Linked DNA regions of Homo sapiens. The protein of the gene in region 4 interacts with the protein of the main gene of each other region in a pairwise test. Each region holds a gene or a part of one and is shown on either strand. Other genes may lie near its edges.

Region 1 (7,832 bases), on a different chromosome or scaffold from region 4:
GAAGGTACTCCATGTCCTCCTCCAGCTTCAACTGTGGGACACACAAACCGCAGGATTTGGGATCAGCGATCCCCCTACCTCCTGCCTAGAGTCCAGTTGTGCTCGCTGAAACTGCACCCACCCCAGAGACCCTCCTCAGGAGGGGCAGGGGATCAAAATACGTCACCCAGAATGTGCCACCTTGGATTATTTTGAGCTGAAGGCACTTAAAAAAGGGCAGGTGTAAGAATTGCTGTGACCCTCGGCCTTCCTAAGAGCAGAAGGCACAGCCACCATGCCAGAGAGGACTGCCCTAGGCCAGGAGGAAAGCCATGTTCTTACCAAGGGCGGGAAAGCCGAAACCAGAGAAATCTGTGCAAAGGGACCCTGCTAAACTAACCCTCATCCTCCTCAGGTACATGTTTGGCTCTAACATGCTTCCATGGGCCTCTGGCTCCTTGGGAGCGACTCCTGGGTCATGGAAAGCTTACAGGGAATGAATTTCAGTGCTTTGCTTCTGCTTATCTGTCTCAAATCAGTTTGGTTCTCAGAGCCACCCAAAATACTCTGAGAGGAGAGGTAAGATTTTGCAATGCCTGCATCATACAGTGTAGGCCCACATTGTCCCCAGGGACACCCCTACCCAGCCACAGGCCACCTTGTCCCCTGGATGCCTCCTCCCCAGCCCCTGACTCGGGCCACTTTGTCCCTGGACACCTCCTCCCTCCCCCATGATCTGGGTCACCTTGTCCCCCTGGATGCCTCCTCCCCGGCCCCTTGACCTGGGCCCCGATGTGGCCTACCTTGTACCCCTGCACTGCCTCCTCGGCGGGCAGCACCCTGTGCAGCCGGTGCTCCCGGGACTCCCTGCACACCACACAGATGGGGCTCTGGTCCTTCTGGCAGAAAAGCTTGAGGGGCTCGTGGTGCTCCTGGCACAGGTCTTGCTTCTGCAGACCAGGATGCTGCTGCGCCATCTCGGCCACCTTGGTCAGCAGCCGGTTGGGCAGCAGGTTCCTCTGCGGGGACATCTCTCTGCACTCGGGGCAGGGGAAGGAGCCCTTCCGCTTCCGCCTCCCCTTCTTGCCCCTCGCCTTTTCCCAGCTCAGCTGGATGCAGGCTCGGCAGAAGTTGTGGCCACAGGTGGTCATCACAGGGTCTGTGAAGTAATCCAGACAGATGGAGCACGTAGCTTCCTCCTGCAGTTTTCTGGCGAGTTCCACAGCCTCCATGGCTCCTGGGAGACACGAGGCAGGTTCCCGCTTGAGGGACTCTGGAGAGAGTTGGAGGGAGCAGCCCGATGATCTGGGCGCCGGCAGTGTGCAACCGTCCTGTACAGCCTCCCTTTACAGAGGAGGGCTAGGACTGCAGTCCAGTTAGAGAGTCCAGAGTCATCATTTTTAGCCTTGTCAACAACAGACACAGATGCCTCCCCAGAAACTACACAGACCCTCCCTGACCAATGCTCTGCAGGCCCCTCCGCCTCTCCTCTCCACTGGGCCTGGACCCTACCCGTCCACTTCCGCCTGCTGCTGGCTACCCCCAGCTCCACATCTCATCAGCTCCTCCTCCCCGACAGACCGTTGCCGGCTAGGCCTTCAACCTGCCTTTCTGGAGAAGCCTGCTAGGTCAGCTTAGGGAGAAGCCCCTACCCTTGGAGCCTTCCCTTAATCACTTTCCATCCACTGACCCCACCCAGATCCCCACTCCAACTCCCCCATACATCCCCAGCTGTCTTTGCTGGCGCAACTCTCCCATTGCAAGTAGCCTGACTAAAGAGCCTTTCAAATGTCAGAATTTTTTCTTTAACAAAACCCCGTACACCAAAGGAAGAAGGGATGGGCTATCAGAGGAAAAAAGCTCTCTTCCATTCGGTAGTGAGGTGGGGTTCAGAAAAAACACGCGTGTGCATGTACGCACAGACGAACACCCATACACATACCCATGTATGTATACAAACGTGCATGTGCACACACGCATACCCACGCATACACACCACACAAATACAAACATGTACGCACAGAAACACTGATCCACAAACACAGCACACACAGGCACAGATGCACATATCGGTAAACATACATGCATGTACACACAGGTACACGCGCGCACACACGCACAGGCACACAAGCATGCACATAGATGCCCCCTGCAATCTCAACACTCGCGACCCCACGCAGTGGAGATCTACAGACTTTCGCCTACGCCACGGGGTTGCTATGGGGACCGAGTTGCAGAAGGAGTTGAAAATCGCGTCTACACTGCAAGCACGATTCTCCCCTTCCGTTCTGCCATCCCCTAAAGCGAGGGCGTCTAGGGGTCTCAGACTTCCCCGGCTCTGTCCCACGTCCAGTTTCTCGGAGCTTTCTGCACGCCAACCACCCGGCGCCAGCCCTCCGACTCCCCCCAAGAGCCCTAACGGAGGCACCCAGCCCACCCTGACCGAAGCCGGGCAGGGACAGCGGCAGCGGGCCTGGGGCTCTGGCTCTGGCTGCCGGGATGGCTGTCCTTCCCGCTCTGGTCCGCTAGGGTCCCGGTAGAGTTACCTTGTTGAAGCGCGCTAGCCCCTCCAGGGACGCGGCGGCCGGCGGAGGCGGGAAGGCCGGGCGTTGGAGGGCGAGGAGGACCGGGTTAGGCTTAGGTCGTGGCCCAGGCGCCACAGGAGGGTAGCCTAGGCGGCGGGGTGGGGGCTACTCACCGCGGGGAAGGGGGGCCCGCACAGCGCCTAGTGCACCTGGCCGAGCGCTCGCTGCCGGGAAAGGCTGGGTCTGCCCCCACGAAGCCCAGGAGGCTGCGGCCCGGCCCGGGGCGTGGGGACCTGGGGTCGGGAGGCCTAGGGACTTTGTGGCGTCAGCGGGGGCTGGGGGGCGGCGGGGGAGGGGAATGCTGGGCGAGGGAGTGTTCGGCGGCCGGGACTGGGGCGGCGCCTCTTAGGAGAGGTTGGGGGTGGCTTGGGGAAGGAAGGCGGCAGGGGGTGGAAGGCTCTGGACGAGCCGGGGACAGGCGCAGCGGGTGCTGACTGGGCGGTGGGGAGGATGTGGTCCACAGCCCAGCGAAGGGAGGAGTCTTGTTGGCCTGGGGTGGGACTTTTAGGGGAGGTTAAGGGAGTGTGGAGGGTGGGGAGTTGGGGGGTTACTTGGGGGTGGGGAGTGGAATGGGGACAGCTGGTGGGGCTAGGGGCGGGCAGGCGAGCGTCAGGGTGGGGGGAGTGGGATTGGAAGAGGCTTCTCAACCTGGGGTTGGGGCTGCGGGAGGGCACGCGAGCCCCAGGCTGGAGGGTTAGGTGAGGGGCTAAGTTGGTCGGGGTAGGGGATGGAGAGGAGTTTGTGTGGGCTGGGGTGGGGGCGAGGCAGCAGGAGCGAGTGCCTGTTGAGAAGCTATGAAGGGGGTCCCCAGGAGCAGCCAGTCAGCCGCCAGGTCTGCCCACATGGTTGGCAGTCAGCATCAGGCTGAGGGTACAGGGAGGGGCGTCCCAATCCTGTGGGCGGACCAGTTTGGAGGGACCACCTGGCAGGTCAGGTCCCCTAGAACCAGGCGGGACGGGGTGGGTCTTGCCGACACCCCAGGTGGTTTTGTTACCAGAAACAGGTCCTGATCCAGACCCCAAGAGAGGGTTTTGGATCTTGGGCAAGAAAGAATTCGGGGCAAATCCATAGAGTAAAGTGAAAGCAAGTTTATTAAGAAAGTAAAGGAATAAAGAGTGGCTACTCCATGGGCAGACCAGCCCCCAGGGCTACAGGTTGCCCATTTTTATGGCTATTTACTGATTATATGCTAAATAAGGGGTGGGGTATTCATGAGTTTCCCAGAAAAGGAAGGGCAATTCCAGAAACTGAGGGCTCCTCCCCTTCTTAGACCATATAGGGTAACTGTGACCTTGTCTTGGCATCTGTAAACTGTTGTGGCACTGGTGAGGGTATCTCATAGCATGCTAACGTATTAAAATTAGCATATAATGAGCAGTCATGATAACCAGAGGTTATTCTGGTCGCCATCTAGGTTTTGGTGGGATTTTGCTGGCCTCTTCACCACATACTGTTTCATCAGCAAGGTCTTTATGACGTGTATCTTGTGCCAACCTCCTATCCCATCCTGTGACTTGGAATGTCTAACCTCTGGGGAATGCAGCCCAGCAGGTCTCAGAATTATTTTACCCAGCCTCTATACAAGATGGAGTTGCTCTGGTTTAAAAGTCTCTTACGGTTTCAGCCAAAATGCCGCCCCCAGCCCTGCCCAGGTCCTGACTGGTGGCCATTTCTCCTGGCCTTGAGTCCCCACGCCTAGTCATCACGCTTCATCCTCCAGTAGAGGGATGCACCTTTCACATGGAGGGTTCATCTCCTGCTTTCAGGAACAGGAGCCAGAGGCCTGCGTGCCCTGAGTCAGAGTCCTGGGATTGGAGAGAGAGGACAGATGAAGAAACTAAGGCTTGGCCCACACAGGGGGTGCAGACAGGCAGGAAAACAGGGCCTTGAAGGCTAAGAGGCACCATTCTGCAATCTCCTGGGTGTGCGGGTGTAGACAGCTGGCCACAGGCATAGATGGCTGGCTTTCCCTGGGCTCACTCGGTAGAGTGTTTCTTCTGTGGTCTCTCATCACTCGCACACACAAAGGGGTCTGTGTGCTGTCAGGTGCGGGCTGGCTGCGCACACTGGCCGATTAAGTGAATTACCCTTGTGAACCCAGAATATCTGAGGCTAGTTTAAGTCAATTAGGAAGTTTATTTTGCCAAAGTTAAGGACACACGCCCATGACACAGCCATGTGCCCAAGGTGGTCCGAGCACAGCTTGGTTTTATACATTTTAGGGAGACATGAGACATCGATCAATATATGTAAGATGAACATTGGTTCCATCCAGAAAGGCGGGACAACTGGAAGTGGGGAGGGGGCTTCCAGGTCATAGGTAGATAAGAGACAAATGTTTGCATTCTTTTGAGTTTCTGATTAGCCTTTCCAAAAGAGGCAATCAGATATACATTTATCTCAGTGAGCAGAGATATGACTTTGAATAGAATGGGACGCAGGTTTGCTCTAAGCAGTTCCCAGCTTGACTTTTCCTTTTAGCTAGTGATTTTGGGGCCCAAGATTTATTTTCCCCAATAAATTGGGGATTGGGCAGACCCAATCCTCTGCCTGTCATTTGCATCAGTGAGGGGATTGTGAGCTGCAGGTTTCCTTCAATTGGGAAAACAGAATCACAGAATTAGAGGGGAAATGGAATATATCTATATCTTGCATAGCACCACACATGTCCTAGTCACCTGCTGACACGTTATCACCCTTTGTTACAAATGGTTTACAAGCAGCTGAGCCTAACAACTTCTTTGGGTTTTCACTTCTTTCCTGTACACCCCATGCATATAAAAATATTAAGATCAATACAACATGGATGCCTTTCTCCTGTTCGTCTGTCTTTGGTCAATTTAATTCACAGTCTCCTCCCATACTAGCATGATGTGGGGAATTCAACAAATACTTGTTAAAATGTGGCATCAGCCCAGGATGCTCATTATTAATGCTTTTTAGGCTCACCTGGTTATTGAGCTGAGAAATCTATCATCATGATAAAACAATTGGAATAACCTTCATATCCTCAAGTCATTAAGAAAAAATCAGATAGCAGTTATGTGTCCTGATAAATTGTTAGGTTTAATAAAAGGCAGGATGTACAGTATATGTAGTCTGCCACTATTTAGGTAAACATAATTACTGTATATGTATCTCTTGGAAAATATACAAGAAATAAACAAGAAACTCCATCTGATGAGGGAAATTAAGGGCTGAGGAACCCCCTAATTGAGGGAGGCTCAATTTTCACTATATATCCTTTTGGAATTCTTAAATTGAATTCTACTTTAATAATTTAATTCTTAAATTAAATACCACTGCTGTGGATTGTGGTTTTTTTTTTCAAATTATTTAAGCAAAGGATCAGCAATGTCAGTCTTGAAACACAAGTCTTACTTACACTGCTACAAGGTAAATATCCTTTGCCCTTACTGAATGCAGCCCCCACTAAGTTATTAACATTGTAGAAAAGATTCGAGAGCAAAATTTAAGTGCTCATGCAATTTAAAATAGGCTGAATTAAATGGAAAAGAAGAGGGGCTCCTGAAAATAGGGTAAGAGAGCCATGGCCTCTTTATGTCTTCAATTCAGACTGCTCAACAGGAGAGTCCACTGAGCCACAGAAAAACAAATCCGGATTGTTATGAACTGAATGTCTGTCTCCAAAATTCACATTTTGAAATCCTCACCTCCAAGGTGATGGTGTTAGGAGATGGAGTTCTTTGGAAAGTAATTATGCCATAAGGGTGGAGCCTTCATGAATAGGATTGGTGCCTTTCCAGAGATTTATTTTCACCTTACCCCTTGCACCACATGAGGACGCAGTGAGAAGGCCCTGTCTGTGAACCAGAAAGCAGAATCTCACCAGAAGCTCAATCTGTTGGCACCGTGACCTTGGACTTGCCAGCCACCAGATCTGTGAACAATAAATTCCTGTCGCTTATAAACCACCAAGCCATAGCATTTTGTTATAGCAGCCTGCATAGACTAAAACGAAAGAAGACAGATTAATGGGAGAAAGCATACACATTTCATTTGTACATGTACATGGGAGCCTTCACAGCAAAATGAAGACCTCAAGAGTAGTTAGGCCTAAGTGCTTATCCACTGGATGGAACAAAGGGTAGTAATTGTGAGAAAGCAACTGGAATACCTAGGGAGGCTGGGGAAGGTAAGAGCTATTTTTGTTTGTTTGTTTGTTTGTTGGAGACAGAGTCTCACTCTGTCACCCAGCCTGGAGTGCAGTGATGTGATCGTGGCTCATTGCAACCTCCACCTCCTGGGTTCAAGCAATTCTTCTGCCTCAGCCTCCCAAGTAGCTGGGACTACAGGTGCGCGCCACCACACCTGGCTGATTTTTTTTGTTTGTTTTGTTTTTTTAGTAGATACGGGGTTTCACGTTGGCCAGGCTGGTCTGGAACTCCTGACCTCAGGTGATCTGCCTGCCTTGGCCTCCCAAAGTGCTGGGATTACAGGCATGAGCCACTCTACCTGGCGATAAGAGCTACTTTAACAAAGCCTGTTTGTATACATTTTGCTGCACTTCAGTCCCCATGCCTAGTCATGCTGTTTCTCCCTGCTGGTAGAGGCAAGCACCTTTCCCATGGAGGGTTCATCACCTGCTTTCAGGAAAAGGGGTCAGAGGGCCCTTCTTACACCTGCTGTTCTTCAAGTGCCTTCAGCTCAAAATAATTCTTATATCAAATCTGCATATTTTGGGGAGGTCTATTCTGCTATCTTGTTGGGAGCTGAAAGCCTGAGGGTCGTGACCAACTCAGCATTCCACTGGAGGCTATATGACTAAACAGCAAACTGTTTATCATGAATGCAGGATGTGGGCAAACTCGCATCTGTGCCTGCCACCAGAAGGTACGCTGAGGGCCTCATTCCCTGGCTCTGTGCTCCTTGAGGTTATCTACTGGGACATCTGGAGCCTACTGTTCAAAGAATGCAGTCATGCAGGCCTGCACTAAGTCAAGCAGCTGACCACAACCACCCCCTTATCCCTGTCTCCTTTACTTAATAAGAAGGGCTCTAGAAGCTCAGGGCCCTTGTTCACTAGAAGCAAGGAGCCCCCTGACCCCTTTTTCCAAATATACTCTTTTGTCTTTGTCTTTATTCCCACTTTTGTCCTCCTTTGTTCAGTCCACCAAGGCCCATAGCACTATCTCTTAATGCCTAACTCTCCTTTCTATTATTTCTGGAATTTTAACTTTTTGATATTTAGAACCACTCTTTCCACTTTTATAAACACTGCATGCTCAGGCTACCTCCATAGTGTAC
Region 2 (7,015 bases), on a different chromosome or scaffold from region 4:
TAAGCCCGTCGGAAAAGCACAGTATTAGGGTGGGAGTGACCCAATTTTCCAGGTGCCGTCTGTCACCCCTTTCTTTGACTAGGAAAGGGACCTCCCTGACCCCTTGCGCTTCCCGAGTGAGGCAATGCCTCGCCCTGCTTCGGCTCACGCACGGTGCGCTGCACCCACTGTCCTGCGCCCACTGTCTGGCACTCCCTAGTGAGATGAAACTGGTACCTCAGATGGAAATGCAGAAATCACCCGTCTTCTGCATCGCTCACGCTGGGAGCTGTAGACCAGAGCTGTTCCTATTCAGCCATCTTGGCTGCCCCCTCCGTGTGTTTTTAAAGTATGTTTAAAATATATAGCGGTTACCAAGGCAGGGCAAAGAGGAACGGGAAGTGACTGATAATGGGTATGGAATTTCTTTTGGGGATAATGAAAATGTTCTGGAATTAGATAGTGGTGATAATTGTACAACTTTGTGAATATGCTATAAATCACTGAATTGTAAACTTCAAAAGGGTGAGTTATATGATATGAAAATATATTTAATGTTATTAATTATTGATATTATATGATTGACTGGTTTTATATGGTTAATTCATCTTGCTAGCTGAGGGTTTGCCAATTCCCCTGACTTTCAATAATATATCCTTTTCTGTAAAACAAGGGATTAATTATATTAGCTAATATTTACTGAGCATTCACTGTGGAAGAGGATTTACATACATTATTTCATTTAATCTCAGAACAACCCTATGAAATACGTATTATTACTACATATTTTAAGGAAACTGAAGCTCAGATTGCTTCAAGTATCTTCCCAGAGTCACAATTATTAAGTAGTGGGTCTCAGATTTGAACTCTTTATTTGACCCCAAAGCCTATTAACCACTGAGTCAGCAGAGAGCCCATCAATATGTTTTGTGGAATTGAATTTATTAAATGGATCAAATTTGTGAAGCAAAATATCTGCAATAACTTCCTACTGCTCTAGAGGGAGCTATAGAATTGGAAACCAAATGAGAGTCTAAAATTTCTGGACCTGGAAATCTTTTAGGAAACACATCTACTGCCAGCCCCTTTTAGGGGAAGAAGTCTAACCTTAAGGCAGAGAGAGAGAAACTCGAGTCAGGAATTGATATTCATCCTTATAAAGCCCTGGCTGGCAGGAATCACTTTATAAGAAAGCACATCAGCAGGTCACGATGGCCCAGGCCTGTAATCTTAGCCTCACTTTGGGAGGCTGAGGCAGGAGGATCACCTGAGGTCAGGAGTTGGAGACAAGCCTGGGTAACATGGTGAGACCTCATCTCTACTAAAAAAAAAAATAATAATACAAAAATTAGCCAGGCGTGGTGGTGCGTCCCTGCAGTCCCAGCTATTTGGGATGCTGAGGCATGAGAATCACTTGAACCCTGGAAGCGGAGGTTGCAGTGAGCTGAGATGGTGCCACTGCACTCCAGCCTGAGCAAGAGAGTGAGACTCTGTCCTAAAAAAAAAAAAAAAAAAAAAAGAAAGAAAGAAAGTATGTATCTTCCTCCTTCAGTTCACTGTGCACATTCTCAAAGAGCAGAGAAAAGGCAAAGAGCTATGAAGTCCATGGAAGCTTGCATAAGAAATCCTTAATTTTTACCAGAGATTTTTTTTTCCTGAGAAGTTTTGTGTTGTAAATTTTTGAAATCATAGTTAAGATATCTAAGGAGAGTTCATTTGTTGCTTTTCAACCTTTATTCCTTCAAAGTAATTTTTAAACTTTGATGGGCAGTTTTTATGAAGAATTAACTTTGAGAGCAGAAAAATACAGTTCATCCACAGAGACAAACTATATAGCACAGCCAGCTTAAACCTAAGAGCAAGACACACTCCTGCTTCACGAGTCAAGCCATTTGCACATAAGAAGGCAAGATTCTGAACTTTCTGACTTCTTGGAGCTTCCCAGAGTTGAAAGAAATTTTAAGCCATTTAATTCACTCCTTTCCAACCTCTGCCTGAACATCTGAAGTAATGGGAAACTCACTATCACACAAACAATTTTTTTACTATTATGGAAAAGTGTCTATTTTCACTGACTTGGCCTTAAAGTAATAAGAATATAGTAGGTTTAGGCAATAGTGTTTATTTTTGCCCTAGAAATTATAAACAAAATGCTTATAGCCCTGTTTGCTTCAATAGCTAAGCACAGAGATGAGTAGCAGCAAACCTAAAGGTCCTATGATAGAGGAAATTAGAAACTGATCTTAATGATTAATATAATGAAATTAAACTTTATAAGAAGTGGAAACTAGTGGAAATGGATGATAACTCAGGATTCAAGGGCCCCTGAAAAACCCTTAGTGAGTTTTTCAAGCTTTCATGTAGTAAATAACCATTTTCTTTTGTTTGACAATCAGGAAAACACTAAGTTCAGAAGAACATAACTTCCTTTATTTTAGCTCTGAAGAGGTCTTAAAGGAAGAATTCAATTAAAAATGTTTACTATCTAAGTATCAACTCTGCCTTAAATATAAAATAATCAAATGTGAAGGTATTGTAAGCAAACCAAGTTATACATAATAATTTTTAAATCTAAAATAAAATGATTACATTGATAATGAAAGTAAATTGTATATAGTATATAGTTTATTTTTTCTCAAAATGTTTTGGTGGATTTCATTACTTTCCTACCAGCTTCTCTAGTATAAATTATCAGTTATTCCAAGGCTTGGAGAGAGTATAGTAGCTACCAGCTGTCACAAGTTAAATACTTCCCTTCATGAATTTCCTTTTGTGCTCCTAAATCCATATCCTCTTCTATGATCCTGTTTTCCACACTATTCCTAGAAGCCCTGCTAAGTTAAAAAAAAAAAGGGTCACTCACCTCCATGAAGCTTCAGCCCACCAAGGGGCAGAGGCAGGCACTTGAATCAGAGCTCAGCAGGCCCAGGATGGCTGCAGACTGGGAGTCAGGGACCTTTTAGTTTTCAAGGAATGGGCTCAGAGCATGATGGAAGAAAGAAAAGTTCAGGAGCTGGAGAGAAGCAGCAAGGCCAGAGTGAGGTCTGGCAGATTCCGTGACAGTTTGTCAGTTAACTTTGATCATCATTTGCTTAAGAGAAAGAGAAACCCTCATTAGAATACCCTACCTGCCCAACTTTTCTTTTGTAGGAGACAAGGGCAGCTCATTTAGATTCGAGTTAGTGGTCTAATCTTAAGGTTCATAGCTCCCCATTTCTGGACTAAGGATGCTCTATGAAAGAGGAAATACACGTCAGCAGCAGCCTATATTAAGCCTAACTCATGAAAAATAACCACCTCACCCCTGTTCATGATCCCATCACACCATCAAGACACCAGCTGAGTGGCTTTAATAGAGAGCTAGTTCACCTCTCATATTCCAATGAAGCAGCCCTGATTTTATCTCTGAGACAGTAACACAGGCCTGGGAAACACCAGGCCCTAAGAAAGCAGGATGAAAAAAGCTTCATTTCATACAGCTTTCTTCAGCAGTTTTAGCTCGCAGAGAGATGTACCAACACTGTGCTCCTGAGTGACTTATAAAGAGCCACCACAGAGCCAAACAGTTTTTCTTACAGTAGTTCCTCTAACTCAATATGATTTCTTGCACGTCTAGCTCCTGCCTAGCTGTCCAGACTTAATGACCACAGCTCTTTCCCCAGTGTTTGGGATCGCCCAAATATGTCACGCTTCTGCAGCTTTGTATATGTTGTCCCTTCGGATGGGAGTTTCCCTTCCCCCACACCCCCGTCATTATCTCTTTACTAAACTCTTCCCTAACCACCCCCTCATCCCCAAACCAAGCTTTACCCACTTCCCTGTCTCTTGTAGAAGATATTTTGCTGGCTCTATACCAGAGGTTACCAACCTCAGCCCTATTGATATTTTGGGCCTGCTAAGTCTTACGTTAGAGGGGCTGTCCTGTGAATTTTAGGATATTTAGCAGTGTCCCTGGCGTTTACACACTAGATGCCTGTAGCCACCCCCCCCCCACCAAACCCAGTCATAACAAAAATGTCTCCAGTCATTGCCAAATGTCTCCTGGGGGCAGGGGTTGGAATCACTCCCCAGTTGAGAAACACAGCTTTACTCCCTTCCTTCCTTCCTTCCTTCCTTCCTTCCTTCCTTCCTTCTTTCCTTCCTTCCTTCCTTCCTTCCTTCTTTCCTCTTTCTTTTTTTCTTTCTCTTTCTTTCTTTCTCTCTCTTTCTGTTTTCTTTCTCCCTTTCTTTCTCTCTCTGTTTCTTTCTCTTTCTTCCTTTCTTTTTCCTCTTTCTTTCTCTCTTGCTCTCTTTCTTTCTTTCTCCCTTTCTTTCTCTTTCTCTTTCTTTCCTTCTTTTCTTTTCTTTTTTCTTTTCTTTCTGACAGGGTCTCACTATGTTGCCTAGGCTGATCTCAAATTTCTGAGCTCAAGCTGTCCTCCCACCTCAGCCTCACAAAGTGCTAGGATTACAGGTGTGAGCAACACCACGCCTGGCCTAGTTTTACACATTTCTATAGCACCCTAGATCTTTGTACACGTGGCTTTAACAGAGTGTATTCTAATTGTTTGATTGCATGTCTGCCCCTCCACTAAGTTGTGAACAAACCACAGGATAGGTAGTACTGTATCTTGCTCACCTTGGCAATACATGGCATTTGTTAGATCAAAACCTTTGTCAGATAAATGTCTATGAAATGCTGGTGATCACTTAGTCAAAAAAGTAATTTTGTTTCATCTTGATTGTTTTTGTTGTTGGCTAAAACATTTGACAATGCTTAGTATAGCTGATTTTACTAAAGCCAGCGCCTGCACATTTTTGAACCTTTAGCCTAGGGGTAAGAGTACTGGCCTAGAAGATGGAAGCCTTGTCTCTCACCACCAGAGCACTGAATAGCCTTAGCTAAGACATTTAACTCCTATGGGTGTCAGTTCCTCCTTCTTTAAAATGTGAATTCCTAAGACCCCCTTCTGTCTCTAGAAGCCTGTGATTCCAAATCCTATGTAGCAAGAAGTCTCAATCTTCACAAAGAGTACTTCAAGTCTTTTTTTCACTATTTAAAAACAGTGTCCAGGCATGGTGGCTCATGCCTGTAATCTCAGCACTTTGGGGGGCCAAGGTGGGAGGATCACCTGAGCCCAGGAGTTCAAGACCAGCCTGGGCAAGATGGCGAGACCCTGTCCCTACAAAAAATTTAAAAATTAGCCAGGCATGTTGGCACGTGCCTGTGGTGCCAGCTACTCAGGAGGCTGAGGTGGGAGGATCATTTGCGCCCAGGAGGTCGAGGCTGCAGTAAGCCATGATCATATCCCTGCACTCCAGCATGGTTGACAGAGTAAGACCTTGTCTCAAAAAATAAAAATAAAAAATAAAAAAATTCCATTGCTGTAAACGAGACCCAGAGTGATGGTTAATTTTGTATGTCAACCTGACTAATATACCCAGTATAAAAGTTGCTTAAGCAAGAATGAAATTTATTTCTCTCTTAAGTAAAAGTCCAAACTTCTATAGTGGCTCTGGTTTGCAAAGTTGTCAGTCTCCCAAATTCCTTCTCTCTACTTTGTTAACACAGAACTCACAACATCCATAAATTTGGAGAGGAGACTTTATTTCTTATAAAGCGTTAAAGGCCTGCAAGGTGGCCATCCCACAGGCCAGGAAGTACAATCTCTGGCAAAGACCAGAGACAGGCACTTCAAAGGAGGAGCAGGGGTAGGAACTTGATGCTGAATAGGTTGGCTAAACATACATATTCAACAGGTTACAGGAGGAGCTATGAATAATTATGAAGGTCATCCTGACTCATGCTTATTGAACAAACATGCATGTAACATACAACCCATGTTCACTTTGAGGTGGAGACTTAACTCTTTTTGTTGTTGTTATTGTTTGTTTTTTGTTTTTCGCGACGGAGTCTTACTCTGTCACCCAGACTGGAGTGCAGTGGCGCCATCTCAGCTCACTGCAATCTCTGCCTCTGAGGTTCAAATGATTCTCCTTCCTCAGTCTCCCAAGTAGCTGGGATTACAGGCGTGCACCACCACACTCAGCTAATTTTGTATTTTTAGTAGAGACGGGGTTTTGCCATGTTGGCCAGGCTGGTCTCAAACTCCTGACCTCAAGTGATTCACCCACCTCAGCCTCCCAAAGTGCTGGGATTACAGGCGTGAGCCACCACGCCAGGCCTAAGGTGGAGACTTAACACTTAAATGCATAACAATTAGACCCTATAAGTCAAAATGCCTGTTCAGGACAGGAAGGAACAAGGGTGCTTAGCCTCTATAAACTGGCCAGAACCAGCCCATAGTCAGTGGTCTTCTTATCAAGAGAAAGTGGCTGGGTGCGGTGGCTCACGCCTGTAATCCCAGCCCTTTGGGGGGCCGAGGCAGGCAGGTCACAAGGTCAGGAGATGGAGACCATCATGGCTAACACGGTGAAACCCCATCTCTACTAAAAATACAAAAAAATTAGCGGGGCGTGGTGGTGGGTGCCTGTAGTCCCAGCTACTTGGGAGGCTGAGGCAGGAGAATGGCATGAACCCAGAAGACAGAGCTCACAGTGAGCCGAGATCGGGCCACTGCACTGCAGCCTGGGCGACAGAGCAAGACTCTGACTCAAAAAAAAAAAAAAAAAAAAATTGCTTATCTCAGCTGGTGCTTGTTTAGCTGCTAAACAAAAAGAAAAACTGACAGGGCAGAACTCCGTCTCAAAAAATAAATAAATAAATAAATAAATAGAAAATCTTGTGGCAGTTAGAACATAGTTTATTCTTTAAGTGTAGGAGTGCATGACATAACACTTGCCTGGCATGACCTTAGATCTTACGAATAATTTGTTATTGCCACAAAGGGTCTATTCTGTCAGCCTTATGATCTTTATTTTGACATTAATGCTGGTCAGTTGTTGTGTCTAAACCATAAAAGAGACGGAGATATAATGAAGCGTGTCTGACCTCCCATCCCGTCATGGCCAGGAACTCAGTTTTAAGGTTTTTCTGGGGTCACTTTGGTCAAGAGGGGTTCCATTCAGTCAATTAGGGGGCTTAGGATTTTAGTTT
Region 3 (6,794 bases), on a different chromosome or scaffold from region 4:
AGCATTTTTGGAATCTCTAGTTCTTCCTACAGGAACGAGTGGTGACCCCACCAACTCGCTCACGCCTGACATAGCTTCTCACGGGGCCTGGCTCATGGTGGAAAATCGCATTTTCCTTATTTCTGCTTTTATAATAAACTTACCTATCATTTGAACTAACTTGAGTGGGTCTCAGTTCTTTGCAATAGAAAGGGTTGCTACCATGTAAGCTTTGAAAAATGAGGTGTAAACTGTGGATGTTACAAATGTGCAACAGTCCTTCAGAGTCGGAAAGGGTAGCTGGGACTCTGGGGCCTCTAGACTTGAGCACTTCCTGGGGAGGGAACCCAGAGTCCCACTTCCGGCCAGCAGAGCAAGGAGGTTCATTAAGCTGCCTTATCTTGAAGTTACCAGGTTTTAGGATCTATCCACTTCCCCTGTGCTGACTCCATACTCCGAAAGCAAGTAAACTTCAAGTAAAATTACCCTAGGGGAGAAGCAGGTACTGACAGACCAACATGAGTGTTTTCACTTATGAGCAGTTTTATTTCTCAGTGTAAGACATATAAATTGTTCTCACTGACATATAACTATTAAAAGAAAAATAAAATAAAACAATTTAAAAAGAAGAAATATAAATTGTATTTCTGAATCCAAGTCACCTGTGGGGGTGTAGCCAGCATTAAAATAATCGCCAGGACCCATGCAGGCATCTATCTCTGAATGAGGCAGTGCAGCATAGCAGTTAAGAGCTCTTGGGTCAGACATGGATGAACTGGTTGCATGATCTTGGCTCGTTACCAAGATAAAGTGACACAAGGTGTGTAAAGCTCCCGAGCTGCAAGCCAGGATCTTCATACACATACATTTTAGAGGATAATAGTCCTTTCAAAAGACACAGCTAAAGCCAATAAAAATAAACAAAAATAGGATCTACTTTTCTGGAATCACAGGTTTGGGTGCTTTGGATATGTTTTATCATTATATAGGCACTTGTGTGTGTCTGTATTTTTTTGAATATACAACATTTTAATGAGATACTGCACACTCCCAGGGAAAGCAATTCAATCTCTAATCCCTGGCTTCTGATCTCCACCTCTTTTCTACCTGCTGAGGTAAGGATGAACAACAGAACTTCTCAATTGAATTCTAAGCTTGGGCCTAAGCACGCTGTGCCCTCTGCCTTTGAGTTTGCACCCTGGATGGCTCCCCTCCTCCCAGGAGACCCAGTAGGGAGATGACAGAGCATTGTAGTTTACACTGAGCAGAGTAAACAGATGATGTTAAGGAGACTGTCAGTGAAGGGCATGATTATGCAAAATAAAATACAATAGTGACAAGAACAAGAAAATAAAACATGGTCACTCTTCCATCCCATTTCTCAGATGTCACTACAGTAGTCTCAATTACGGTAGTCTCAATTCTTTAGACTAAAGTTCATAGGTCATCCAACTTATGCCCTGGCCTCCTTCTGGAATTCTTTTACCTAGCAGTTTCTGAGCCCACAGCTGAGCTATTTGTGACCCATTTGCTCCCACTATCTCATTTCTTGACCTCAGATGGTAATCAACTGATCAGGAAGACAATTTCCCTAGGGTTGAGTGTGGTCCCTGGGTTATGATTTATGGCTATACCTTATGTCCTCCTGCCCCCAGGCCCTGCACCTTAATCTCACCCAGAAGTGGCAACACCAGGAGGAAGGAGGCAGTGAGTGGCGTCGGCTGGGGATGGCACACATCTGCCCATAATGACAATGGAGACAACCCAGTGCTCCAGAGTCACAGGTCATCCAGCCAGTTCTCTGCTGTTTCCTCTTCTTAAGATGCTTCTTCCCCTCTTTTCCCTATTGACCATAGGCATCCTTTAGACCACCCTTTTCAGAAAGCCATCCCCCACTCACCCTCTCCTTCCAGGCTGGGCTATGCCCCTTCCCCTGAACTCCCATAATGCTGGGGTTGGACTTCCCGTAACACCCACCACACTGTGCTGTAATTTCCTCTTTATGTTTCTCTGTCTTCCCAAGAGCTCTTTCAGATATAGAGCAGGTTTTTTTTTTCTCTATATTTTCAAGTCACCAGTGGCCACCACACTGCTTGGTTCATAGTTAACACAAACTAAATGGTTCTAGAGAATGTGATTACATGAACTCTAACATTATTGGAAGAAAACAAGATGAAAAGAGGTGAGATGCCTTGTTTAAAGTCATACAACTGGTTGACAGGCTGGTTCAAGAACCCAGGTCTTCTGACTTCAAATCCAGTGCCCTTTCTATGCAGCTACTTCTGTGCCAAGCACGGATGGTGGTGAGCAGAACTGGCAGCAGCCTGAGTCCCCAGGTACCCTGGCCATCCACTGGGCATTGGGGAAAGGACTTGATCAGTAGATTGAGAGTCCTCTCTTCTATCCCTTACCACCCGGCCCCATCCCATCTTCTAAAGCAGTCATTTCTATTCCAAGTCATCCAGGTGATTCAGCCAGGGATCAAGTCCACATGGTACTTGGGTTGATATGAGTCCTGTACTTAGAGGAGAGTAGGTAACTGCTCCTTCTCAGGAGCTCAGGGAGAAACTGGACCCTCGGCCCCAGAGCCCAAAGAAGGGAATGACCTTCCTAGTGAAGGAGGCAGTGAAGGTGTAGATGGGCTCTCGGGTGACAGCGTTGGTGAAGGTCACCCAGCCCACCTCATAGTCAAGAGACACCCTCACCTGCCGGGGCTGCTCCTTCAGGGTCAGCCGTGTGGGGAAGGAGCCCAGAGCCGAGACGAAGCCCCAAGCCAGCCTCACAGCCCACACCCCCTCCTCTGGCCGCAGCCGAAGCTCCCCCTTCCGCTGCACATCCTCGCTCACCACGCCCACGGTGCAGCTGCCCCCATGGGCCAGGTCTATACTCACCACCCACGTGTGTCTCCCCCCTGTGATGCCAGTGTGGGCCAGAACACAGGTGGCCCGGTCAAAACGTTGGGGGTTGTCTGGTGAGTTCTGCCATTTGTAGGAGAACTGAGCTCGCTGGTGGTCCTCGGACAAGAGGAGCTTGGGGTGGGAAGTCTGAGGGTCTAGAGAAATGTGAGCTGTGGGGATAACCAAAAGGGACAGATGTCAGCAGACATGCTATTACCTCCAAGGAAGGCATAGAAACTCCCCCTGGGCCCCTCCTGTTAGTGTTATTATTACCAAAAACATGTATAGTGCCTACGTGGGCCAACAGTGTGGAACCACCTGGGAACTTGTTAGATATACGCTCTCAGAATCTGCATCCTAACAAGATGCCCAGGTGATTTGCACACAGGTAAAGCCTGAAAAGCCTGCCTCAGAGGATGTGAAAGCTCTCGTTTAGTTCAGTGTGGTCCTCGGGAAAGCTCTTCTGCTCACCGCAAGTTGGCTGGTTTCCAAAGCTGTGCGTGCCAGCTTGGATCTCCTGGGGCTGATATACCACATTCTCCCCTCCTCCCATCTCTATCCCACAGTGCAGCGACATTTCTCCCTTCAGTCCAAACTTCATGATTCCTCCCTGTTTTCCTCCCAGGGCACTGGTGACTCATTTACAGTCTTCCCTCCTGGCAGGCTCTCTGGCTCACCCCTGGGTTATTCACTCTGCCTCAGTAATTCTGAAACTGTCAGAGTCTGAGGACCACTTTTTACCACCAAAAACTGCTGCAGAGCCTTGCGTTTTGTTACTTTTAGTATTCATAAATTGAGAAGCTTCCATAAATTTAGGTCCATCTGTGGGTTAGAGAACCCCCTCCAACAACTCCGTGACTCCCAGGGTCTTAGGCTGGTTGATTGAGAAATGACAGCCTTGAAGGGGTCCATTCTGTTCATTTTTTTCCCACCCACAGGCCGCCCTCCTTCTGTCATCTGTGAAATGACATCTGAGAGGAAGCAGGGGTTCCTTACGTTCTAAAGAGGTGATTATAAACCCAGATCAAAGTCCCCTTTATCCAGAAAGCATTCCCAGATGGACTTTATCCCATTCTGCATTAATCTTTCTATCTACTCGACATGCGCAGATCAGGATGTGAGCTTCATACCACGAATGTAGTATGTGTATGTGCTTGTCCTTTCTTCATGTTTCTCCTGAGAGCCTTACAAACAATGTGACACACACACACACACAACCTATATATACACACATGTATTATATACACACACATATGTGTATATATAATATATATGATGTGTATATGTATCCATGGGTGTTTGTTATGACTATTGTCATAGTCATAACATAGTCATAGTGCAAATCCTGCAAAATTTTCTCTCCTTTCCGAGGACTTCTCATTCTCTCCCATCCTGACATAGGCTCCTTACCTGGCTCATAGTCCAACTCAAAGCATAGTTTTTCTGTAAAGAAAATAAACCAGGATGAGATTTTATTAGTCTTACAAAACCATCAGACACTTAATGATGAGAAAACTGAGGCCAAGAAGAGGGAAGGGACAAGAAGAAGAATGTAAGCTGGAATCCTCTAGACCAGTGGTTCCAAGCTTGCATCAGAATCATCTGGAGCTCTTGTTAAAACACATCTGTTTCAGATTCAGGTGCTCTGGGGTGGAGCTGAACATCTGTATTTCTAACAATTTCCTGGGCAATGCAGCTGCTGCTGCTGGTGGGAGCCCCACTGCCCTAGCCCTGATCAAACAGGGACCATGACTGCCTTGCTCACCTCTGTACCCGCAGAGCCCAGGACATAGTAAATGCTCAAGAAATATCTGCTTAGTGAATAGAGAAATGGGTTCATTTATTTATTATTCCACTTGGAAATAATTTTGGGGAGAGTCAAAGGTCAGCCTTTGATTAGAGTGAAATTTCCTTCACTGACAGGTCACTGGAAGTATTTGCAGGAAATGGAATTATGGGAAAAGTCCTTCTAGGGTGACATAACTGTGGGTGGGTCATTTCAAAATTGGTGTCATCATTCATTCTGTCATGGTTAGTGAGGAGGTGGTTGGCAGAGAGCCATGTCCCATTCCTGACTCTCATCCAAACCCTCCCCCACACCCTACCACCACTCCCTGTTCCGGAAAAGGAAGTGGAGCACAGTCCCCGTAGGACCGTCTAACTCTGAGCCAGACTAACAGAAAGAAAGTGAGAAGGAAGGAGGGACGAGCCAGATACCACAGGGTCAAGATAAATACTGTTGTTGGCTATTAATTAACAATGTTCATCATCAAAAACTTATCACATATTACAAATGTTGCTGTGGGATTTTTTAACTTATTAAGAATGATATATTGTTAATCATTATCTTTCATATTGCTTAATGACCACTAATCAGATTTGTTGAATTATTTTAAAATCAGTTTAACTTTTTCACCAGAAATATTCACCTTTATTCTCTTTCTTCATTGTCACAATATCCTAATAGGCAGATTTTATAAAAATCTGCAAATAAGGAAATCAAGGCACAGGAAGGAATAAGGCTTGCCAAAGTCACACCTTTCAGCAGTGGAGCGTGGAGGCCACTCCTAAACCCAGGCTTCATGGCCACCTGCGCTCTGTGGAGGCCTGGGGTTCTCTTACCCAGAAACATCTTCATCTCCCTCTGCAGCGGGAGGGCCTGCTGGGGAAAGTCCCGAATCCTCTGGCCCAGCTCTGGCGACACAGCCACCGGTTTCCGGCACTTTCTGGTTTCACATCTAGGGGCACAGAAATGGCTGGGTCTGGGAATTATCATCCTTAATAATGTCTCCAGACTCAGCTGGTCATCTTCTAATAGGGCATGATGGCGCTAGTTCCTGCAGGCAGACGTACTTCCTCTAGGATGAATCCCACTGCCCATTTTTGGGCATCTATGGATATACCTGAGAAGGCATTTGGGTATATAGAGGTTTATATGTAAATTTGTATCCTTAAGTGAGAATGTTATATACCTGTGTGGCAATAACTAGGCATGCAGTACATGTATGTATATTTATATGGAAAAAGAAAAGAGAGAAACTATATTGCTTACCTTATTAGAGTGCTTCTGATGTCCTAGGAGAAAGAGATACCAGAAATTCAGTTTCCAGCTTCTCCTTTCCATTTTTCTTTCCTTTCTTTTTCTACTTTTATTTTATTTATTTTTTATTTGCTTGTTTGTTTGTTTGAGAAAGGGTCTCACTCTGGTGCCCAGGCTGGAATACAGTGGCGTGATCATGGCTCACTGCATACTCAACCTCCTGGGCTCAAGGGATCCTCCTACCTCAGCATCTTGAGTAGCTGGGACTACAGGTGTTTGTCACCATGCCTGGCTAATTTTCTTTTTTTTTTTTTTTTTTTTTTTGTAGAGATGGGGTTTTGTTATGTTGCCCAGGCTCCTCCCACTTTTCTTATGACTGGAAAAGACAAAATATATTTCTAGCCCTGGACAGGAAAAGGATACCAGATGCATAGAGTCACAGAGCATTAGGACTCACCCATCTCTGTGGATCAGAGCCCAAAGCCTTTATTTTTTAGATAAAGATGGTGAAGTGACCTTCCCCTGCTCACTGGAGGCAAAGTAAGTCTCATACCAAGGTCTCCTGTTTCTCAGTCCTAAGAGCATCATTCTAAGTCATGCTGCCTTTCCAATACTTTGTGGGGACCCCAATACCTCTCCTCCAGTGTGAGGAAGTGAAATAGACCAGGACAAACTTCCTGACTGGTGGTTGGTGACATTTAGGTTATAGAGAATGGTTTGCAACTTACTTAATACTTTTTCAAAGTGCTACTTTCACTTCCATCTTACTGTTGGATCCTCACAAAAGCCCTGTGAAATATTTAAGGAAAGTATCTTCCCTATTTGGCAGATGGTGGGACGGAGAGGTGGAGACCAGAGAGCAAAAAGTGACCAGGGAA
Region 4 (7,025 bases):
CAGGAGTTCGAAACCAGCCTGGCCAACATGGTGAAACTCTGTCGCTAGTAAAAACACAAAAAGTTAGCTGGGTGTGGTGGCATGTGCCTGTAGTCTCAGCCACTCAGGCGGCTGAGGCAGGAGAATCACTTGAACCTGGGAGGGAGAGGTTGCACTGAGCCGAGATCATGCCACTGCACTCCAACCTGGGCATCAGAGCGAGATTCCGTCTCAAAAAAACAAAAAACAAAAACAAACAAACAAACAAAAAACCAAAGTGAATGTACTTAATGCCATTGAACTGTACACTCAAAAATGGTTAAAATTTTGTATGTATATTTTAGTACAATCATGTAAGAGTCCTAGCAAAGTGCCTGACTCTCAGTAGATACTCAAGAAATGCTAGTCCCATTCCTCTTAAAAAAAAAAAAAACAAAAACAAAAACAAAAAGAACCTACAGTAAAATAAAATCATGCGCCTTTCCCTATTTAATTGTGAGAAACTTTGATTCTAAGGCAAAGCCAGCTGGCCCCAATACCAGGTAGTGCCACAGTAAGTGTCTGGGTAGGAAGGAGAAGGAAGTCTGTTCAGTTCCGTTTACCTCCACCCCGTTATGGTGTCTCCCAGAATATCAATCCTCTAGACCCTAACATATTGAAATAAAAAAAAAAAGCCGGGACACTTAAACCAGTTTCCAAACCAGACTTCAGGTCATGAGGAAAAAAGTATTCTGAGTGGCAGCTGGCTCCTGGAAGCAGTGGAGAGATAAGACGCTAGTGCTGAACACCAACTAGATGAGTCTGGATCCCATGCCAGTCCCTGGCATTAAGATGATCTGTATTTCTCAGCTGGTGCGGTGGCTCACACCTGTAGTCCCAGCACTTTGGGAGGACGAGGAGGGCGGATCACGAGGTCAGGAGTTCGAGACCAGCCTGACCAACATGGTGAAACCCCGTCTCTACTAAAAATACAAAAATTAGCAGGGCATGGTGGCGCAGGCCTGTAATCCCAGCTACTCAGGAGGCTGAGGCAGGAGAATGGCTTGGACCCGGCAGGCGGAGGCTGTAGTGAGCCAAGATTGCGCCACTGCACTCCAGCCTGGGCAACAGAGCGAGACTCTGTCTCAAAAAAAAAAAGATGATCTGTATTTCTCTCAGACGCCTTTGGCTGCATCTAATGGACACAGAGGACCAAAGATTCAAAGACCCCTGGTAAAGGAGGATTAAAAATGCACCTGTCTGCAGTTCAGGGAAAACAATGAATGATTATGTGTTGTAAGTCATAAAATAGAGAAGGAGAAAAATAGATGACTTATCTCTAGGCATATCAGGACACTGTTTCTGATGGGCAGGCTTAATTAAATCTTAATGCAATATTCAGAGAGATGATCATCAACACCTCACAATTTTAGCTCAAGGAGAATGAAATGCTTGGGGTACCAACACCCAATCAATTCCAAACAATACTTACTTTAGGGTCTGAGCTCTTGAACTTCAACCTTTCCACCAATTCGATCATAGCGGCCTTCAGTCCACCTGAGTCTTTGCTCTAGAAGAAAGAAAAGTGAGGGGTCACTAGACAGCATTTTGTTGCTCTCTCAAACACAAACAGCATTTTGGAAGACAATGAAATAGAAAGCAATTTTTTCTTAACAGCCAAGAGAGCTAAACAACAAAGGAGAGGTGCATTGCCCCTCTTTCCCTTCTCTATGGACAAAGAGTGTCAGGACATAAATTGCCCAGTGACTGGCACAACTATATGGAATGAAAATTAAATACAATTTGTATAGGCTGACTCACTGCTTCATCTCAGGCTCAACTGTGCTGGTGTTCACTGAAGCTCTACAAAAGACAGTTCCATACAAGATGTCTATTTTACAGACTGGTAATTTTTATTTTGAACCTTTATGCATCAGATATAGAAGTATGCAATATTAAATATACTTATAAAAATTAAAACAAAGAAAATAGTCTGAAATTTAATTATGAATGGAACTGTAGTGTGCTGATTAAGAACACAGGTTTTTTAACTGGGTGTGGTAGCTTGCACCTGTAATTTCAGCTACTCAGGAGGCTGAGGCAGGAGCATTGCTTGAGGCCAGGAGTTCAACACCAAAAAAACCCATAAAACTCACAGGTTTTTGAGTCAGACATATACAGTTCCAATTTTGGATTTGCCATTAACTAGTTGATTAATTTCAGGCAAATTACTAAATGTCTCAAAACCTTCTCCCCCTTCTATAAAATAGTGATAATAAACTGGGCTATTTTGGGGCCTAACTGAAAGTGTTTTAAAAGATATTAGCACAGTATGTGGCACACAGTGAGTGCTCAAAAATTTCATATGCTATTACTATTATTACAGTATAATGATTTAGAATAGCACAGTACAATAAAAGACTAATGTGAGTCCCAAATGCAAGCGTATGTATATAATTTTATAACTGCCACAATTAAAAAGTAAAATTGATTTTGATGTATTTTACTTAACTCAGTATATTCAAAATATCATTACAACATGCAATTTCAACATGAGATTTTTTTTTATGCTAGGTCTTTGAAATCTAGTATTTCACAATTACAGCCCAATCAATTTAAACCAGCCACATTACAAGTGCTCCAAAGCCACATGTGACTAGTGACTACTATATTGGTCAGTACAGATTTAGAGCACAGACTAGAGCCCTAGTGCCATTAGTCACACACTAGCTGTGTGACCTTAGGCAAGTTACTTACCCTCTCTCTGTCTCAATTTCTTTATCTGTAAAATAGAGCCAATAACTATCTATTTCATAGGACTGCAGTAAGATTAAATTAGTTAATGTATGTCAAGGTACTCAGAACAGAGCCTGGCACATGGTAAATAAAAAAGGAAGTATGAAACAGTTTTATTACTATCTGTCTCCCTCGTGATATTTTCAGTTCCTTAAGGGTAAGAACTGTATTTTTTTGTATCCCTGTATCTCTTATGCCCAGCATCTAGATGTTGTAAAAAGTCTGAACAAATCAATGAATGAACATATAACCTTAAGACATGAATGCCATAATAATAATACATTATATTATATATAGGACAATCTAAAATCACAGGAATTCATTTATTTTCTTATCTCAACAACTCTATCAGATAGGTAGGAACATTCATTTCACCAATGAGGGAAAGGAAGCAAAAAGAGGTAAACTCACTGTCATTTCTATGGGGTAGGGACAACAAAGAAGTACAAGAATAAACAGATACTGCAAATATCTCTTACTCAAAATTGGCCTCTGGATCTGTGATAACATATCTTCCAAATTTACAGAACTAATTTCAATTCCTCCAAAATAGGAAATACCTAATAAGATTCCACTATATAAATTAAAATATACTAAAGGGTCAATTTTCCCCCCTCTGACCTCTCTTGCCTCTCAAGTCTACACAGTAAAAATCAGACACAACATGACTACAACCAATATCTACTTTAGATGTGTTCTCCAAACACAGCTTAAATCACATTTCCATGTTAGCAAAGGTTCTAAATTTTAATAAGTTCTATTTTTTAAAATGATGGTTTACAACTCCCCTATATCCTCCACTAATTTTAGTCTTTAATCTCTGTGGTCTCATAGCAGACAGTTGACAAAAGGAACTTAGAGGTCATATACCAGGAAGCAGGTGAGACCTGAAGTGCCTAAAAAAGGGTTAAGTTGCCAGAAACAATCATGCTTTTACGAGATGATCAGACAATAAAGCCTGTCTGGTGATATCATTCCTCTAACCTGCTTCTCATTGGCTGAACAAGCAGGTCACTTGTCCCTGGAAAGCTCTCTTCCCCCACATCCCAGCTGCCAGCGCCCATTTTAAGCTCTTCGGCAAGAGCTCTGATATATTATGACTTTCCCCCTGGCTCTAGAGAACAGAAAGGAATGCACCAAACTGTGTCTTAAAACCTTCAGAAAAGAATAAAACGACAACGAAGGAATCCCTAAGAAGCAGACAGCCTGTCTGCAAGCAGATGTGCCTCGTGTGGATGAATAAGGGAACCCTTAGCCTTCTTTCATAAAAATTCAGTGTGTCAGCAGAATCCTTCCTCCTTTTCACAAAGCATCAGCAGCATCGCCTAACCAGGGAAGAGACAGAGGAGAGGCAACTTAAGAGAGCCTCCCTTCAGGAAACTCACCTGTTCCACCTCCCCACCCCACTCTCTGTGAATTATTCACCAAGATTAACTGGGCTCTATGATGAGCCTGCTATACTCAGTCTCTAAATCAGTGGTGAAGAAAACCTTTCCCAAAGGCTTTTTTAAAAATCTATAAAATAAGCAGTTGGTCAGAAGGCAGAGGCTCCTCGGGGCAGACCTGACCCTGACAGCTGCAGAGCTGGGGCAAGAGTCCAAATGGAGGACTCTGGCCCCAATCCACTCCCACCACTTTCCCCACATTCCAGTCCCTTCCTGCACCCCAAGGGGCCTTGTGCACAGGTGTTCAAGCTAGCAGGTCCAAGCTGAGAATACCCCTCTTGGTCACCCATGATACACATGTGGGACCTAGGGATACATGTATCAGAAACTGGTCCATCTTCAGGCAGACGGACTCAAGGAGAGGCTCTGCAGGCCCTGGAAGCAAGCTCAGGACATTTTACCAGGTAATTCTTGGGTAGCTAGGTACTTGAAGAGTGGTACGGAACGGGACAGGCATGGCTACAGGAGGGGTCTTCAAAAGCATGGGACATAGCCCAGCTACTCGGGAGGCTGAGGCAGGAGAATCGCCTGAACCTGGGAGGCAGAGGCTACAGTGAGCCAAGATCACTCCACTGCACTCCAGCCTGGGTGACAGAGCGAGACTGCATTTCAAAAAAAAAAAAAAAAAAAAAAAAGTATGGGACATAGGTCAGGGGCATGGGGTTGTTTGGGTCTAAGGGTGGTGGTATCTGAGTCTGAGTATCCCCAAACCATAGAATAGTACCATGTTTTGGTTAATTATTTGTTTGCTGAGGACAGCCATTAGTCAAAAGATAGCCAGACAGGAGATTATATCCTCATTTGTTCCATAGTTAGGGAACCAGTGAACAGAAAAGATAGTGGAACAGAACAGCTGCCTCTGAAACCTGAGTTCTAATTGAGAAGTGAACCAGGATAGTAAGAAAAGACAGCCTAATTCTAACCTTGTAGACATTTGGTTCCATTTTTAGAAATGATTGTCAATCCTTGGGGCACATAACATGACTAGCAAAGTAGTAGGATTCCCCTGCTATCTGTACTTCTCCACCTCCATCCCACCCAATGCATTCCAAGAACACAGGAGTTCAATGTGAGCATATCTTGTTTATGTACCTTGTTCCTCCCCTAAGAAGGTGTAGAATAAAAAGAGATAAGTGCTACATTGTGACACCCACCACTCAGAATTTGATTAATCTGTAGAAGCATAGGATGCTTCACAGAAGCCACCTCCTAGGGATGAGTCATAATAAAACCAAAGGACAAAATGCTGTACATGTGAAGGTATTCTTTAGTCTCCAAAGCACTTTCATATGCTCTTTCATTGGCATCTCACTGAAAAGCAGTGTATTCTCACTTTACAGCTGAAAAAAATGGCTGGTGAAAATCAAATGAACCCAAAGCTCAGAGCGCTTATACTCTTTCACTGGCATTTCACAGTAATACAATAACTAAAAGGTAGTGTATTCTCCTTCACAATGGACAAAAATGGCATTGTGGATGTCAAACAATGTCCCCAAAATCACAGAGCTGGTCAGTGACAAAACCAAGATCAGAAAGATCTAAATGAAAAAGATTTATAACATATACATGGTATCAAGAATACAGAAAAAACACATAAGGGATTTCTATACATCAGTAAGAAAAGGCCAAATAAACCCAACAGAAATCTCCAAAAAAAAATGAACAAACGAGACCCTGTCTTAAAAAAAATAGAAATGTGAAATGCAAACACATCAAAACATGCAAAAGATGCTCAGACTCACTCATGATTAAAATATAATTTCTTACCCATCAGCCTGAAATAAATTTTAATCTCATAACAGCAAGTGTTAGGCCCTGGGGAAATTGGGGACTTCCATATGTTGTTGATGGATATATAAAATAACTGCCACTCTGAAATCACATGCCTACCAATCCACTTCTCCTTTCCTCTTGAGGAAGACTAGCACCTGTGTCAAGGATGCATGTACAAAAGTATTTATTGCAGCACTGTTTGTAATACTAAAAATCTGTAAACACCCCAAGGATTCATAAATATTGGGTGGCTAAATAAACTGTGGAATTAACACACTGTGGAATACGACATAGCAAATAAAAAGAATGAGGTAGGTTGTATGTACCTGGATACAATGCATGACATATTGTTGAATTTAAAAAAAAAAACAAAACCTTGCAAAATGGTACATGTAACAGTTTTTTAAAAAATTATTACTTTCTATGAGTGACATAGGTATGTAGAATATTAGAAAAGCAATTATTGCTGGGACTGGTACTTAGGATAGAAGGATTTTAGAGTTAAATATATTCCTATTAATTGCATAATTAAGATTTAGCATACTAAAAAACAAACAAACAAAAAAAGGCAGGCAGTAAGGCAGGGAGAGAAGCAGAAGTTGACCAAGAGGGCCAAGGTCTCCTGCTTACAGTGCTTCTTCCCATGAATTTGCCTAAATGTAAATACTGGGGCCTTTTCCTTTGACAATGCAAACATATGGACCAGCAGATTCAAGAGAAGGTTCTTTACTTGATATTCATGTATGGATTTCAGGGGGTCTGAAATCCTCAAAACGATATAAAATTTGGGCTGTACATGACATTAGCTTTTCTCACATCCTCAAAAACAATTAACATTCCAAATGTAAAGAGCATTGCACAAAGAGAAAGGAGACCTAGGTTTTACTACTAGCACTGCCAGCAACTGCTTGTGTGAGCTTGGAAAAGTCATTTTACATCCCTGGGTTTCTGTTTTTCCATCTGTAAATGAGGAAGATGGACCAGATCAAAAGCTATATATCCACAGCCTGAGGCCTACAGAACTATTTTCTTTGGCTTTTAGAGTGTTGTCCC

What was found.
Region 1: the proteins of TRIM44 (region 4) and TRIM17 interact in a two-hybrid assay, tested with the Homo sapiens proteins (one study listed by BioGRID).
Region 2: the proteins of TRIM44 (region 4) and TRIM69 interact in binary tests that used the Homo sapiens proteins (3 or more experiments, as listed by UniProt).
Region 3: the proteins of TRIM44 (region 4) and TRIM10 interact in binary tests that used the Homo sapiens proteins (3 or more experiments, as listed by UniProt).

Annotation. Positions count from the first base shown.
Region 1 is NC_000001.11:228,413,862-228,421,693, forward strand, and holds the start of TRIM17 (E3 ubiquitin-protein ligase TRIM17), read right to left. Parts: upstream 3,001-7,832; 5' UTR 2,678-3,000; exon of another isoform or gene 1,253-2,677; 5' UTR 1,212-1,252; coding exon 783-1,211; intron 32-782; coding exon 1-31. UniProt on the Homo sapiens protein: E3 ubiquitin ligase that plays important roles in the regulation of neuronal apoptosis, selective autophagy or cell proliferation.
Region 2 is NC_000015.10:44,732,538-44,739,552, reverse strand, and holds the start of TRIM69 (E3 ubiquitin-protein ligase TRIM69), read right to left. Parts: upstream 3,026-7,015; 5' UTR 2,849-3,025; coding exon 2,843-2,848; intron 1-2,842.
Region 3 is NC_000006.12:30,151,441-30,158,234, forward strand, and holds the end of TRIM10 (tripartite motif-containing protein 10), read right to left. Parts: intron 5,952-6,794; coding exon 5,929-5,951; intron 5,615-5,928; coding exon 5,499-5,614; intron 4,320-5,498; coding exon 4,287-4,319; intron 3,047-4,286; coding exon 2,529-3,046; 3' UTR 2,332-2,528; coding exon of another isoform or gene 2,248-2,331; 3' UTR 503-2,247; downstream 1-502. UniProt on the Homo sapiens protein: E3 ligase that plays an essential role in the differentiation and survival of terminal erythroid cells. May directly bind to PTEN and promote its ubiquitination, resulting in its proteasomal degradation and activation of hypertrophic signaling.
Region 4 is NC_000011.10:35,679,762-35,686,786, reverse strand, and holds part of TRIM44 (tripartite motif-containing protein 44), read right to left. Parts: intron 1,529-7,025; coding exon 1,451-1,528; intron 1-1,450. UniProt on the Homo sapiens protein: May play a role in the process of differentiation and maturation of neuronal cells. May regulate the activity of TRIM17. Is a negative regulator of PAX6 expression.